2 linked regions of the Homo sapiens genome follow. The protein of the gene in region 2 interacts with the protein of the main gene of each other region in a pairwise test. Each region holds a gene or a part of one and is shown on either strand. Other genes may lie near its edges.

Region 1 (7,529 bases), on a different chromosome or scaffold from region 2:
TATTTTAATAAGTGCCGTGCAACTTGCTGCACTGTGGCAGGGGAGGTTAGAGGCCAAAGGTGACGTCCACTCTAATCCTGCTTTCCCCTGTGCCTGCTTGTGAGTCCTCTGTCCCTCTCCCTCATCACAGAAAGTTCTCAAACAGACCTCCCTGCAGACGGGGGCAGAGTCCTTTGGCTCAGCATTTAGGCCTCCTCTTAACTGGCACATGCCAACAAAATGGAAAACCTCAACAGAACTAAACAAAATAATTCTTCTCCTCCCTCAAGAATGACAAAGAAAAGTAGCTTTACAGGAGACATGTAGACAACCTACATGACCCTTTCCCCTCAAGTTCCCTATACTATACTGAACTATTTCCTTCCATAGCTGAACCATTGTGTTTACTTCTATCTGAAATCTAATTACGCTAAATATCAGAGCCCCCACAATTATGAAAATCTATGCCAGCAAAATATGAGGGTCTTTGTGGATTTAATTTTATTTTCCCAGATTCCTTATTTATTATTTTACAATAATGTCTGATTTTTAACTATTTTGCATGTTAGTCTCTGAGTAAAATAGAGGGGAAGAAAATATTGTATTAGGTAGCAAATATATGGACAACACTATAGCAGCTGTTTTTCACATGCTAACTCATTTAATTTTCACAATACTCTAAGGATGAGATTATAAATCCCATTTTAGAGAGAAAGGTGCTAAGGCTCAGAGAGGTTCACTAGCTTGCCTAAGGTCACACAGCTACTAGGTGAAAAATTGGGAACCAAACTCAGCACACTACCTCTTCCTGCCTCCTCTTCCTCCTGGTGCTCTTTTCACTATATTAAAGCAACAATATTATAAATTTGAGTAAGGGCTTTTCTGGAAGTGTTCTGCAGCTCAGCCCCATATAAATTTGGACTAGTCCCTGCCTTCTTTTGAGCCTCAGTTTACACATCTATAAGATGAGAGCCTAAGATGCTGTTTCAGGTCCTTAGGATGCTAACATTCCAAGATTCCAGCCCCCATGGAATTTTAACTAGATCTTCTTTCTCTGGCTCTTACTTTAGTTCTCTCCCTAAATCCTTCTAGCTTCAACCCTTTTATTCACCCCAACTGTCTCCAAGGGTCTCTTTGGCATTAATGAAGCCACAGTCTCACAGACCTTGGGGGGCCCACGAATCTGGCTGAAAATGAGCATGCACCTCTTACAAATGAACTAAGATGTAAAGGAAAAAGCAATTCTCAGCTCTGAATGGGACTGAGGTGGGAATTGAGGAGGCTTTTCACATCTGGAGCCCAACCATAGACTAGAGATCAAATGCCCAGGTCACAGCATTGGCCACCGCTCTCACTCTGTCATCAGACTGGCCCAAAGAACTTGAACATCACCTCGGGAACATTTCCATGGCCCTCACCCCAAGTCCAAGTACAACCTACGTTTGCTATTACACACATCATGCAGTATTATAATGTGCCTGTGTAACAAGCCTGCCCCAGTCCCAAAGGGCAGAGACTGTGTCTCATTCATATTTGTATTCCCAGTGCCCAACACCATGCCTGCCTCATAAAAACTACCCTGAATGAATGTGCAAACTCCCAGGTCTAACACCTCCTGGTGACAGAGATCACTTCTACCTTGCAGTGTGTCACCATGCCTCCCAGGGGGTTCTGCCCAGCCAAGTTAGGCAAGCTTTAGTCCCAAGCCTTCAGATGAATTGGTCCACGGAGGAAGTCTGGAGAGCAGGGACTTTTCAATTTTCAAAACCTTATAAGAATTTCTGCTGTCTTGCCTGCCAGAATCTTTCTTTGGCTCCCAGCAACATAAGCTGCATGCCTCCAACTGACAAGCGACAGGCCAGTTGGTCAGCTGTTGCTTCCATTTACTCAGAGCTGGGCGGCTGTACTGTTTCTGTCACTAAATCAAGGGATCCTTGGGACGGATGTGCTTGGGCGTTAAGGCAGCCTGAGGACCTAGTCTCCGGAAGCTTCTGTGAAGTGTGACTGGGCTGCCCTGCCTGGCACGGTGACTTGAATCTTCAGTTTGCCAATTCTCTAAGAGCCCCAACCCCCCATCCCCAGATCTCTACCCCCAGAGTGGAAGTGATTGCAGCAACTCTTGCAGTAGAATTGGGGGCAGCAGCAGGGGAGGAGAGAAGAGGCTATTAGCAAATCAAAGGAAAGAAAACAGGGGAAGGAAAACACAGTAGCAAATTAAAGCACTATGTTTTCTTTTTAAAAATCCAATTAAAGGGAAATCTGCTTTTGAGTAAAACAATCATGCCCTTGTTACAAAGTATCCCAGGAACCCTCAAGATAGGCAAAACCTTTTTAATCACATTTTTTCTCATTACAAGTTGGCTAATAGGAACATCATAGTAATTCCCCGTTAACTCTTCCACTTTTCACACCCGCACAAACACACTGGGTTATAACAATGCTCTTATTCTATCTTTGTCTCAGACACATTCTCAAGCATGTTGGTTTACTCTCTCCTTAGAATATCCCCGTATCCTCATTCTGATATGCAAACGTATCCTCACCTACAGACCATTCTTTCCTCCTCTCCTCTCTCATGCACGCGTGCACACACACGCTGAAACGCTATATACACACTATATATGCATATAAACATATATGTTCTCCTTTTAATTCAATACTAATCCAGTCATTCGTATTTCCCAATTTCTTCTCAGTCTCTCATACAGGTCCACGCAGTGAAGCCCAAGGGAGATACTTACCTCCATAGCCTGCGGGAAACTTCATGAAGTGAGAATAATTTCCATACATGTTTACTCGTCAGTTCATGTTCCTCTCCTGTGCAGCTTCTAAATATTACCGCCTCTCTCGGCTCCCAGGCACAGCCCGGCTTTCTTCAACTTGGGCTAACAAGAGTGGTCATCGCTTCCTAGCAGCCCGGGGAGCACAGGCTGGGCCAGCCCTCTGGGATTAGTCAGGAATCTGCCTCTAGATCGGAGAGTCCACATAGTGCGTTTGAGACGGCTGTGGCGGCAGCAGCTGGTGCCTGTCAGTAATCACGCATAATGCTGCCGCCGCCGCCGCCGCCGCCGTCACCGCTACTCTTGCCACCGCCGTCGCTGCTGCTTGAGATCCTGTTGCTAGTTTGATTAACTCAGGGTTGGGCTGCTGCGTGCGACTCTTCCAGCTCCCGGCGCGTCCCCAGAGGTCCCTACCGGGTGGCACGATCTATTATCTAGGAAGCCAATCGATGTATGACCGCCCGGTGTAGGTCAGGAGAGAGGCGGGAGACGGCAGGGGATGGAAGACTCTTTAGGTGCCTGTTCCTTGACTTACATCCACAAAAATCAATGGGATTTTATTAAAATGCATTTTCTCATTCGAACTTCTATCTGTCCAATGTACTTGGTATTTGATCTGTGAAAGGAGGAGGGGGTGGGGTTCAAGAGAGAACAGGGCCCTTTCAGAAGCACAAGATTAGAAAAGCGTGATACTCAATCTCCAGCTACGGAAAACTAAAATAGAGTAGCCCTTAAGTTGAGGTGGGCCTCTCCTGCTTGGGTGGCCGGAAGCATTTATCTGTGCTCTAACAATGGGAGTTTGACAAGTGCAGCTGGAGCCAGAGCTCACTCAGGTGGAAAACTTACAGGTAGGGAGGAGGGGTTGGCTTGATGTGGAGGTCTTTCTCTGCATTTATTTTATATACCATTGTTATCCTGCCGCCTGTTCAAAAACACCACTGGGTCCTCACTAACACAGAGCCTGTCTTGTGTGGAACTGACCCGAGATCAAAGAATCTAAGCACCCCGTTGATGTTTGGGTCTGTCATACAGTTTTCGTGACAAGTCACCGCTCAGCCTATACTTGAACACCTCCAATAATGGGGAGCTCACCACTTTCTCATTCCATTTCTAGATAGTTTTCACCACAAGAAAGTTTCTTATAGAGATAAAATCTGCTCCTTTTCCCTACAGCTTCTGCCCACAGGTGCTAGACTGCTCCCAGGGGCCACACAAGAGAAGCCTGAAAGACAAAAAAGTCTTTCACAGTGGGATCCTCTGCAAATCCTGAGATTGATCTGCTGTGCCCATAATCCCCCTTTCCCTAGGCATCTCTGGCTCTTTCAGTAATTCTATGTATCACCAAGGGTTCATGTCTATTCCCAACCTATCCTTTTTCTAATAATGTACTTCAGTTTACATAGATACCCTCACAGTGAGGAAGGGGGTTGGCCAGACTTGGATGCAATACTCCAGATATGGTCCAAACCTTTTCCTCATGGTATATGTGTTGGCACGGTGATGGGGTGCTGTCAACATACCCATTGAAGGTCCGTTTCATGGGCTGAGCTCTGTTGGGCTGGAAAAAAGATAAGAGATTTTCTCCTGATGCAGCATAAGACATAGAGAGCCAGAGAGGTAAGTCAAATCAGGGTCCCAGAGTAAAAAATCAAGATTCAAATGCTAGGAGAAGCCAAAACAAAAACGTAGAATAAAAGACCAGAGTCAGGAACAAAGTCATGATGACAAAGGAGGAGGCCAAAATGGGGAATCAAAGCAAAAGCATGTCACAAAGGAGGAAGAAATATCCAGGCCTTCACTGTAAAGAGCTTTGGAGAGCCCAGAGCTGCCTTGACTGTTGCTGGGATGAGAGTCCAGTGGACATAAGTAATATAGAATACAGGAGGACCATTTGCTCACTTGCATTAGGTGGGCAGCTCTGCATGTTAATTCATGTAGAACTAACTCGATAAAAATCTCCCCACCCCTACCTCCCCTAAGTTGTGTTCTCTTATGCATATTCTTCATCCCATCCTTGGGCAATTGGTTTTGGGACCTACATGAAATGCTTCCTATATTCCTCTGAAGTTAAAACTTTTTGGCTTCATTCATCATCCCAAATCTTTTAGGATCCTGCTTCTGTTGTCCAAAATATTTCTTATTCATACCCTTATTTCATGACTTCTGAAAATCTGATGAACTGCTTTTTCATATCTTATTCGACTCATTGATAAAAATGTTGACATAGACATAGCAAAGACAACATCTTATATCACTAAAAAGTCCATTCATTAGTGCCTTAGACACTTTGCTCTGCTACTCACTAGTTATATGGCCTTGAAAGGCTATATGTATAGTAAAAGCACCAACTCACCAACTCACAAGCCAACATTGCTGGGTACAAATCCCTGTTCCGCTGCTTACAGCCTCATGATACTGGCAAATGAGTAAATCTCCCTGAGCCTCAGTTACCTTATAGGGTTACCATGAGGATTAAATGAGTCAATACATGTTAAGCACTTGAAATACGCCAGATAAATACTAAATGCTCGATACATGTAATCTAATTTGAGGCAAATGATGGGGAGGAGGAGGAGGTCAAAGAGGAAGAGGATGTAACCTTAAGCAAGTCACTTTATGGCTCCTCTCCTTTTTCTCATTTGTAAAATGATGGAGCAGAGCTACATGGGTTCCAATATCATCTTCAGCTTTAAAACTGAACGCAGACTAATGCATCACCCATTCCATAATTGTCCATTTTCTCCATAGTGGTATCTGAAGCAAGTGTCTTACAATCTACAGTTTTCTATTGTACGCATGTCAGAGAAGGAAATGAGTTACTTAAACTGTTTTTTTGTGTGTGTGTGAACCCATGTTTCAAGGGTTTTTCCAAGTACTCAAGTACTCAAAAACCATTCTTTAAAAATCACAGTCTACAGACTTGTCCAAGGTCATTGTCAAGATGATCTGTTGGTTAAGCCACCAACAGATAGACTCTTTCTTCACCTTTTTCTAAGTTCAGTACATTGTCTATTTCTTTTCCTCACAGAAGAAAAACCAAATCCTAACCTGGCATGGAAAAGGCTCACCATTTGTGGGGTGTCTCGGCCTATCATGTGAGCTCTATGTAGAGGAAAGTGCTTTGGGGCAGTAATCACAAGGCTTGGGATACACACTCTCTGGGAAAAACATCCATGCTGCCAGCCTCACTAAGGTTTCTGGATTTAGTTTTGATTTTGTGGATCAGATGTGTTGAGAGTTGGGCACGTGCTCATTTTTACACTGCGAAGTTCTATACAATGGCTTTGTAAAACAAATGCAAAGAATTAATATTTTCCTGATTTTCTTTCCTCCCTTTCTCTGAGAGTTCCTTCTGATCTGGCTGTTTTGCCCACTGTAGGGGTACGGTATGTTCATTCCAACTTCCGGTTTGATATAGTTTGGATGTTTTTCCTCTCCAAATCTCATGTTGAAATGTGATCCCTAATGGTGGAGGTGGAGCCTAGTGGGAGGTATTGGATCATGGGGTGGATCCCTCATGAATGTCTTAGTGCCATCCTTTTGGTGATGCGTGAGTTCTTGCTCAGTTAGCTCTCAGGGGATCTGGTTGTTTAAGAGTTTGGGACCTCCCCCTCCACTCTCTTGACCCCTCTCTCACCATGTGACACACCAGCTCTCCCTTTGCCTTCCACCATGATTGAAAGCCTCATGGGCTTCACCAGGAGCTGAACAGACACTGACACCATGCTTTTTTTTAACAGCTTGCAGAACTGTCAGCCAATTAAACCTTTTCTCTCTATAAATTACCCAGCCTCAGGTATTTCTTTATAACAACACTAAAAGGACTAACACGTAGTTCATTGTTCATGCCCATTTACTTTTTCTCATCACTAAAATTCTTACCTATCATTCAAGTTCCAGCTCATTTCCCACCATGAAAACACTTATCCAAAAAGATGTCTCCCTAACCTAGGTCTGATAAAACTTATTGTCCAGTGTGTTCAGGTGACACTTAGTATGTATGGCCTTGTGGCATCCCCAGTGAAATGGCAAGGAATGGTTATTTATCTTTCCTTTGAATATGTCTTATCTTCATAACATGATTGTTAACTCTTCAAATATAGTGATAATGTATTATGTCTCTTTGTTTTCTCACCTAAGTGCTAAAACACACAGTAGGTGCTCAACAAATATTTCTGTATCAAAAATGCTTGACATAGTCAAATACATCAAAAACAATATACCAAACGGTACCCCAGTATGCTTTTCTTATGATACCTTCCATATGGCTTAATACCCCATAACAAACCATAAGCTCTGCCTAAAGATCAACAAATATGAATGTGGTTTTTTCTTTTTAACCCACTTTTTTTTTTCTTGGCACCATTGTGTCTTCCCTAAGACCATTATTGGTATAACAACGTTATCCTAAGTGGCTGGTATTTCTAACATAAGCCCTTCCCAAACAGCTCCACTGACTTCAGTCACAACTGTGTCTCCAGCTGTTACTGAATTCTCATTAGGATGTCAAGTGAAAGACCAAATGCTCAAAGTCTACAGTAGGAATTAGCTAATTCATTCACAAGAATTCTTGGCCTACTTCTTGTCAAGGCTAGTTAACTAGTCCTCTTAAATAATATGTTCTACTTTTACTAAAGCCATTAGTGCCTTTGAATAAGTGGAAAGAGCATGGATTTTGACTAGTATGTTTGGCTGTTTGACACAAATTCGGCCAATAATATCTAATATTCACCCTGGTAATCAAAGGATATAGCTTTACGTCTGCTCTTT
Region 2 (7,734 bases):
ACAGAAAAACTCCTCAGGCCACCAACACTATTTTCTGCCCACCTTGAACAGTGGACGCCTCACTTCCTTCTTAATGCAATTTTTAATTCTTCAGACACACTCCTCATTCCGACTCTGATCAACTGTGCTCCTCTCCCTGTTCTCAGTATCAGCTGCTTCGTTTCGCCTTCTTTCCCCAACTTGCTATGACTCTTGCCCCAATACTGACTGCAGCCTCCCCATCCCACCCCGCATCATTGGTCAACTAATTCCATTAATCCAACTAATCCTCGCACTCACTGATTGCCCAGTATTAAACTCCTTCACCCTCTCGCACGAGTCATCATACTTGGTAACATCTTTATATTGACCCCTCAGTGACCCCCCACAATGACGACCTGCCATCCATTCTTTCCTCACATCACCCCTCCCTCCAGGCTGTCTTCTCTCAGCCGCAACCCATTCCTCAAGCTACCCCCTTCCTCCTGGACTCCAGCCCCACCCCTCCTGGCGCAGATCCCTTCCACCTTGATCCTCTCCCCTGTACGACTCCGCTCCTCCATCCTCCCACAGGACCCCCTCTTCCTCACGCAGACCCCCACATACCTATCTCCTCTCCCGCCGACCCCCTCCTCGGTACTCTCCTCGCACAGCTCCGGGTCACGAATACCGCCCTCGCATCCCGACTCCACTAGCCTTTGCCCGCCCCCGCCTTCGCCGCCTCACTCTCCCTACGCTGACACTAAGGCCCCTCCGCTGGGCCTCTTCCCAAAGCGGAGCCCACCCGGAACGAACCCCAGCCCTGGGAACCCACCAAGCCCACTCTACCGCGCCCACCCGGTCCGATACCGCCCCCAGCCCCAGCCACTCCCCCACCGCCCCCGGCCTTCACTCACCCGCCTCCCTCCGCTCGCGCAGCCGAACCTGCAGGCAGCGACACCTGACAGCGGCCCAATCAAAGCGCGACTTCTTTGCGGTTCCACCAATCAGCGAAGGGCGCGCACCGGTAACAGAGTCAGGCTGCGTTGGCCGGCGCTTCTGCGCGGAGGAGCGTGACCCCTAGTGGCTCTGGGAGGGAATGCAACTTGATGCTCCCTTCCTTTGATTTCTTAGTGTGTCGCCAAAGTCCAGAAGCGTGGTCTAGACAGAGACGTTTCATGAGACGACGGGGTGGGTGGGAAGCCTCATGCTGAGAAAGAGGAAGAGGCAGAGTTTGTGCCATTGCTGTTCCTTCAGAGCAAAAACCAGGTCTTCCCTTTGTCTTATGAGACAAAACAGGGTCTCATATATGTACAGATCCAATAAATAAAGGTTGAAAATTTTAACAGATGTAAAGAGGACTGATAGGGAGACTGGAGACAAAAAAGAGACAAGGAGAGAAGCAGATAAGAAAGTTAAGGGAAGGAACAGAGAGACATTTACAGAGGAGGCAAGAAAGTGGATGGACCTGGAACTCTAGACAAATTGATTCCTATCTCCACAGCCTGCTTTTTCTCTATGCTCCAGACAAAGCTGGATTTGAATCCTGGCCTTACCTCTAATAGCTGTGCAGCCTTGAGCGACTCACTTAATTTCTCTGAGCCTTTATTTTTCTCATCCATAAAAATAGGATTAAAAACCTAGGGCTGGGCTCGGTGGCTCACGCCTGTAATCCCAGCACTTTCGGAGGCCAAGTTAGGCGGATCACTAGGTCAGGAGGTCGAGATCATCCTGGCCAACATGGTGAAACCCCGTCTCTACTGAATATACAGAAATTAGCCGAGTGTGGTGGTGCGCACCTGTAATCCCAGCTACTCGGGAGGCTGAGGCAGGAGAATCGTTTGAACCCGGGAGGTGGAGACTGCAGTGAGCCGAAATGGCGCCACTGCACCCCAGCCTGGTGAGAAAGCCAGACTCCTTCTCAAAAAAAAAAAAAGAACCCAAAAAAACCCCCCAAAAACCTAATTAAGGCCAATTGTAGTGGCTCGCGCCTACAATCCCAGTACGTTGGGTGGCCGAGGCGGGCAGATCGCTGGAGTGCAAGGAGTTCAAGACCAGCCTGGTCAACATGATGAAACTCTGTCTCTACAAGAAATGCAAAAGCTAGCCAGGTGTGGTGGCGTATGCCTGTGCTCCCAGCTACTTAGGAGGCTGAGGCGGGAGGATCACTTGAGCCTGGGAGATGGAGTTTGCAGTGAGCCAAGATCACCTCACTACATTCCAACCTGGGTGACAGAGCGAGGCCCTGTCTCAAAAAACAACAACAACAAAACACCTCACTTAAAGGTACTGATAATATGAAAGCATTTTGTATTGTATATGTTATTGCTCTTATTATCCTCGCATCTTCACTTGGGTTTCCCTGGTCAAGACAGTTGTTCCCTTTTCCTTCTCTGCAATATTAGGGGTCTTGCCACTTTTCCAGTCGTGCCTCATTGTACTGACCCCACAAGGCCTCCTGAATGGACATAGAAATGATTCTAATGGCTTGAATAGATTATTCTAAGAGGAATAGATGCCTCCCTAGTTCATGCTCAGGCTCATACCCCCTCCACCACTCTAGCCCTTCAAACTAGCTATTACAGCATCTTCCAGGTATTTAACTCCCCTTACTATCCCCATGAAAATGTAGACTCTGTCCCCAGTAATCATTGGAACAATCCAATTCAACTCAATGAAATAATACATATAAAAGTTCCTTGTAATTGTAAAGTGCTTTAAAAATATTAAATACTATTGACAACAATAATTCTTATTAAATAAATGAAATACCATATAACAATACCATATATTGATTACTTCCATATGCTGCAAAATAATTTTTTAAATGAGCATTAATATATTATGTGCTTGTAAAAGGCACACAAGGGATAAGAAAAGTGCATAAGTACATGTGTTTTCTCAGTGGAATTATTGTTCACATTTGGGAAGCTACTCTCTAAACTTGGGTAATTTCTCTACTCCTCTGGCTGTCTTATTTCTCCTTCGGTAATTATCTCTTCCCACTTCCTATTCCTTAGTAACACCCTCTCAATCAAATAGCAACCCTACTGCTCTGGAAGATTATCTCCCTATTTATCTGGATAAATACACGCTATTCTAAGAAATTATATTTATTTACTCATGGCTACTTTTCAACCTAGGTAAAGAGGCCCCACAACACAGGTAACATTTTCCACACTACAGCTGCATAACTCTGTTCTCTAATAATTGATGTCTTACCAGAAGAAGAAGGGATGGACCCAAGAGAGAAGTGGACACTTCTAAGAATACCCACAAATGACAAAGGTAGAATAAAAGGACACAAGGAAGGCCTAAGGAGAATGAAGGGAATGAGAGTAATATGGGGGAATTTTCTATGTAAAGGGAATTCTCTTTCCCAAATACTCTCTGTTAAGATTTCCAAGTATCTGTCTTGTGGGTACACCAGGATAGCAGAGGGAAGGGACTAATGCCACGGTGCTACTCCACCTTAACTGACCCTCCACGCTGAAGCCCCTCATCTCTATTTCAACTCTAGCATTCATTCTCCTTGCTACCAGGACAAAGGTCAAATCATACCTGGAGCTGGGAAACAAAGCCCTCTCAAATCTGAATATGTGTTTCACGAGGAGAGAGAGAGCAGCAGAGGGGACCACGAGGAAGGCAGAGATTCCCTGACGACCTCATGCCTTTGTACACCACTCGCCTTTACTCTCTGGATTAAACAGCATTAGGGAGACAAGAGAGGAAACACATGTGGTGTCTGGAGACCTGTGCCTGCCTGTTCCAGTCCCACACCCAGTCATCTCACCACACCCTTCACCTCACTTTACCTTCTCCTCCAGCACAGGAACTAGGAACTACGGAGAGAGAAGCCAAGGGAGAGGAGGAGGAGGAAACTAACGATTCCCTGCCCACCCCCACACCCAGCACCACCAACAGGTGGGCAAGCTTGCCGAGAAAACGCAGAGGGCATCCTGTGAGCAGCAAACACATCTGAGCCTGGAAAAGACGCAGAGAAGTAAAAGATCAAAGGTGAGGTAGGGGACGTGGAGGAAAGTGGGAGAGACAAAAGGAAAACAAAAAGTGGGGGATCATGAGAAGCAGAGGCAGGAAATAACAGGGCTTCAGACTTGGGTGCAGAATGGAGGTGGAGGACACAGCACAGATGGCATAAGAATTAATATTTCCTTGGTTCCTCCCAGGGAGTCCTTTCTCAACTTTGTAAGGCGTGCACAGAGGTGGCAAGGAAGCACCTTGCTCCTCTTCCTGGTTCTAAGGAAAAGGTGACCTTGAGCCAGTGGGTGTCTTTCCCAGTGCCTGCCTCTAACCCTGTGCTTTCTCCATATCCTCCTCTGGTATCTGTGTTTATTCCGCGGTTTCCCCGCGGCTGCCCCCGGGAGACCGAAGAGGTGGCTGGGGCAGGCCGAAAGCAGAGGAAAGGTTGGGCAGTGTCACCCTTGCACACCCACAGGGTAGACGGATCGAGTTTCAGCTTAAACCGAGGGGTGTGGGGGAAGGGTGTTGGGTTCAGCTAGTCCACGTGGGTGCTGTCCTCCACTTGGTGCTGAAATCTGGGCGGCCACATCCCCGGGGCGGGAGGGGGCTACATCCCCGGCTTTAGACGCGCGAGTCTCAGGTCCCGCTAATTACCTGGCGGGTGCTGCCCACCCCTGCCCTCGCGCACCTAGCGCGGTGGCAGGCGGGAAGGCGGGGCCTGGGGGAGCCCCACCCCTGGAGACTGCGGCTGGGGCCTCCCTCTCCTCCGCCCGCCCGCCTGCCACTAGCTCATTGCGCCTCTCCTGCAGTCTGATTGGCACCGGCTCCCATTCCGGCTCCAGCCTCCAATCCGACCCCCATTTCGGCTGCAGCCTCGGACCTAGCTCCGGCCCTCGGTCTATCCGGTTGCATCCTCCCTCCCTGTTCCGGATCTTATCTTGCGCCAGCGCCTACTCCAGGATCCCGTAGCCAGACCTCAAGCCATGGCTGGTCCCTTCTCCCGTCTGCTGTCCGCCCGCCCGGGACTCAGGCTCCTGGCTTTGGCCGGAGCGGGGTCTCTAGCCGCTGGGTTTCTGCTCCGACCGGAACCTGTACGAGCTGCCAGTGAACGACGGAGGCTGTATCCCCCGAGGTAACAGTGCCTGAGGCGCGGGAGGAGGCGGGGGCAGGAGGTGATGGGAACGAAGGTGCGGGTAGAAGTGAGAATCCGGGCAACAGAGAAGGGCTATAATCACGAAGGCCCTGGAGCTGGAGGGCTGTGCAGTCTGCAGACCTCAGTGGGGTGGGGGTGGGGGCCAAAACCATAAAGCAAGAACATTCCTGGGGACCTGCCAAGACCAGCTCTGGCCCTACGAGTTCTAGCTGCACTGGCTGCCCAAATCCCTAATTGTAAAGCCAGGAACTATCCTTTTCGCTCCCCTCCATCTCCTTCCCTCATTTCCTCAATTCCTCTCCTTAGGCTTTTCCCCTCCTCCATCCGTAGTGTTGTGTCATGGGAGGAAAGAACTGAGCAGATCTGAAGAAACTGAGCTGGCCAGCCAGAGGCAACTAGAACTATTAGGAAAGCATAGACTCTGAAAGTCCCTAAAGAGATTACCAAGGTTTACCCTCTTTCTAATTCCCCCTCCTCCCGCGGAGCAAAGCCAGACATGGCCAACTGGACAGCTCCCAGGTAACTGCACTAGGTCTAGGCGTCTGTGCCCTCCCTCCATGGTTACTGGGTACCCCCTCCCCAGCGCTGAGTACCCAGACCTCCGAAAGCACAACAACTGCATGGCCAGTCACCTGACCCCAGCAGTCTATGCACGGCTCTGCGACAAGACCACACCCACTGGTTGGACGCTAGATCAGTGTATCCAGACTGGCGTGGACAACCCTGGCCACCCCTTCATCAAGACTGTGGGCATGGTGGCTGGAGATGAGGAGACCTATGAGGTAGGGGGTCCCCAGAGTCTCCCTGATGATCCAATTCATCTTCCCAGTAATCCCAGCTCCTTTCCCCTAAAGACCTCTCACTTTCCCCCAAGACTCTGAGCCCCCCATACTTAAGTTTTCTGAACCAGTGAAATCAATGCACAATTGAAGTCTGGGGAGGGATTCCCTCTCCTTAACCATCTCTCCCTCTTAACTCCCCTTAGGTATTTGCTGACCTGTTTGACCCTGTGATCCAAGAGCGACACAATGGATATGACCCCCGGACAATGAAGCACACCACGGATCTAGATGCCAGTAAAGTGAGTTCAAATATCCCACTTCTGATTTGCATTGCCTGTGTACAACACTCTGTATCTCCAACCCCTTCACCTTATTTCCTGACTCATGGTCATTATACAGCTGAGCTTTTAATCTTAATGTAAGGAAAGAATCATATCTTAAGGGGCAGCATATATGGAGATGGAAGGATAGATAAGAATGACCATGACCCAAGGTGGGTGGTTTGGGGAAAGGTCTGCAATGCCCCCTTCAATTCCAGTGCTTTCCCAAAGGGCCTCTTCTTCCAATGCATGCAGGAAGAATGCACAAAGAGTCCTCTAATGCCTAAGGAAGGTCTCTCCTTTCCCAGGGGCCCTCAGTTCCCACCGTGTTTCTGTGACTTACATTCATTTCCCTTATCTCCCAGATCCGTTCTGGCTACTTTGATGAGAGGTATGTATTGTCCTCTAGAGTCAGAACTGGCCGAAGCATCCGAGGACTCAGTCTGCCTCCAGCTTGCACTCGAGCAGAGCGACGAGAGGTGGAACGTGTTGTGGTGGATGCACTGAGTGGCCTGAAGGGTGACCTGGCTGGACGTTACTATAGGCTCAGTGAGATGACAGAGGCTGAACAGCAGCAGCTTATTGATGTGAGGGCCTTAAGAGGGTGCTGGTTGGTGGGAGCAGATGGGGAAGGCTGGGCCAGATGAGACATGGGCTCTGAAAGGCCCAGGGGCCACCATGAAGATTCTTAACCCAAGTCCCGTTACTCTTCCCAGGACCACTTTCTGTTTGATAAGCCTGTGTCCCCGTTGCTGACTGCAGCAGGAATGGCTCGAGACTGGCCAGATGCTCGTGGAATTTGGTATGAAGCTGCTCATTACCTCTTTTGTCTTCATGCCCTCATAAATGCTTTTTTTCCCTCTATCTCTCCCAATTCTTGCCTTGCCTCTTGATCACTGTCCCTCTCCGGCCCTCAGGCACAACAATGAGAAGAGCTTCCTGATCTGGGTGAATGAGGAGGATCATACACGGGTGATCTCCATGGAGAAGGGTGGTAACATGAAGAGAGTGTTTGAAAGATTCTGCCGAGGCCTCAAAGAGGTTAGAGAAGACTATGTAGGGGAGCTAGGTGGGAGGACATAAGGAAAACCAAAGAGTAGCATAAATAGATTATGTAATTTACCAACCAACCCAGGACATGTCTTATAGTAAAAAGGACTATCTAGGACTCACTCCAGGACTAAAGGTGTAAACCAGCTGGGACCATACTGGGAAAACCAGGACATGTGGTCACACTAAGATTAGGAAAAGAAAGAGTGTCAGGAATCTTAGGAAGTGAACAAGGCTGTTGACAGAGAGTGCAAAGAAGGAATAAATGAGATGGCACGTCAGTGCCTGGGATGTGTGCAGTGGGATGGTGAGGTGTGCAGATAAGGAAAACATTCGAGCTTAGATTGATGTTGGCGGGGAGAGGTTGCTGTGTTCATGACTCTAATATAACCACCCAGTTCTGAGACAAGGTAGGCCTTGACTCTGGATTCTATCATTCTTGTTAAAGTATCGGGTCTAGGCTTTAAGTTGAGAGTTCGGAGAGAGACTG

Evidence for each region. Proteins that work in one complex are often made in the same cells at the same time.
Region 1: the proteins of CKMT1B (region 2) and RXRG interact in binary tests that used the Homo sapiens proteins (3 or more experiments, as listed by UniProt).

What each region holds. Positions count from the first base shown.
Region 1 is NC_000001.11:165,442,125-165,449,653, forward strand, and holds the start of RXRG (retinoic acid receptor RXR-gamma), read right to left. Parts: upstream 3,003-7,529; 5' UTR 2,770-3,002; coding exon 2,721-2,769; intron 1-2,720. UniProt on the Homo sapiens protein: Receptor for retinoic acid. Retinoic acid receptors bind as heterodimers to their target response elements in response to their ligands, all-trans or 9-cis retinoic acid, and regulate gene expression in various biological processes.
Region 2 is NC_000015.10:43,589,297-43,597,030, forward strand, and holds the start of CKMT1B (creatine kinase U-type, mitochondrial precursor), read left to right. Parts: upstream 1-4,730; 5' UTR 4,731-4,922; coding exon 4,923-5,071; intron 5,072-5,398; exon of another isoform or gene 5,399-5,582; coding exon of another isoform or gene 5,583-5,675; coding exon 5,676-5,874; intron 5,875-6,077; coding exon 6,078-6,173; intron 6,174-6,559; coding exon 6,560-6,781; exon of another isoform or gene 6,782-6,782; intron 6,783-6,910; coding exon 6,911-6,996; intron 6,997-7,111; coding exon 7,112-7,235; intron 7,236-7,734. UniProt on the Homo sapiens protein: Reversibly catalyzes the transfer of phosphate between ATP and various phosphogens (e.g. creatine phosphate).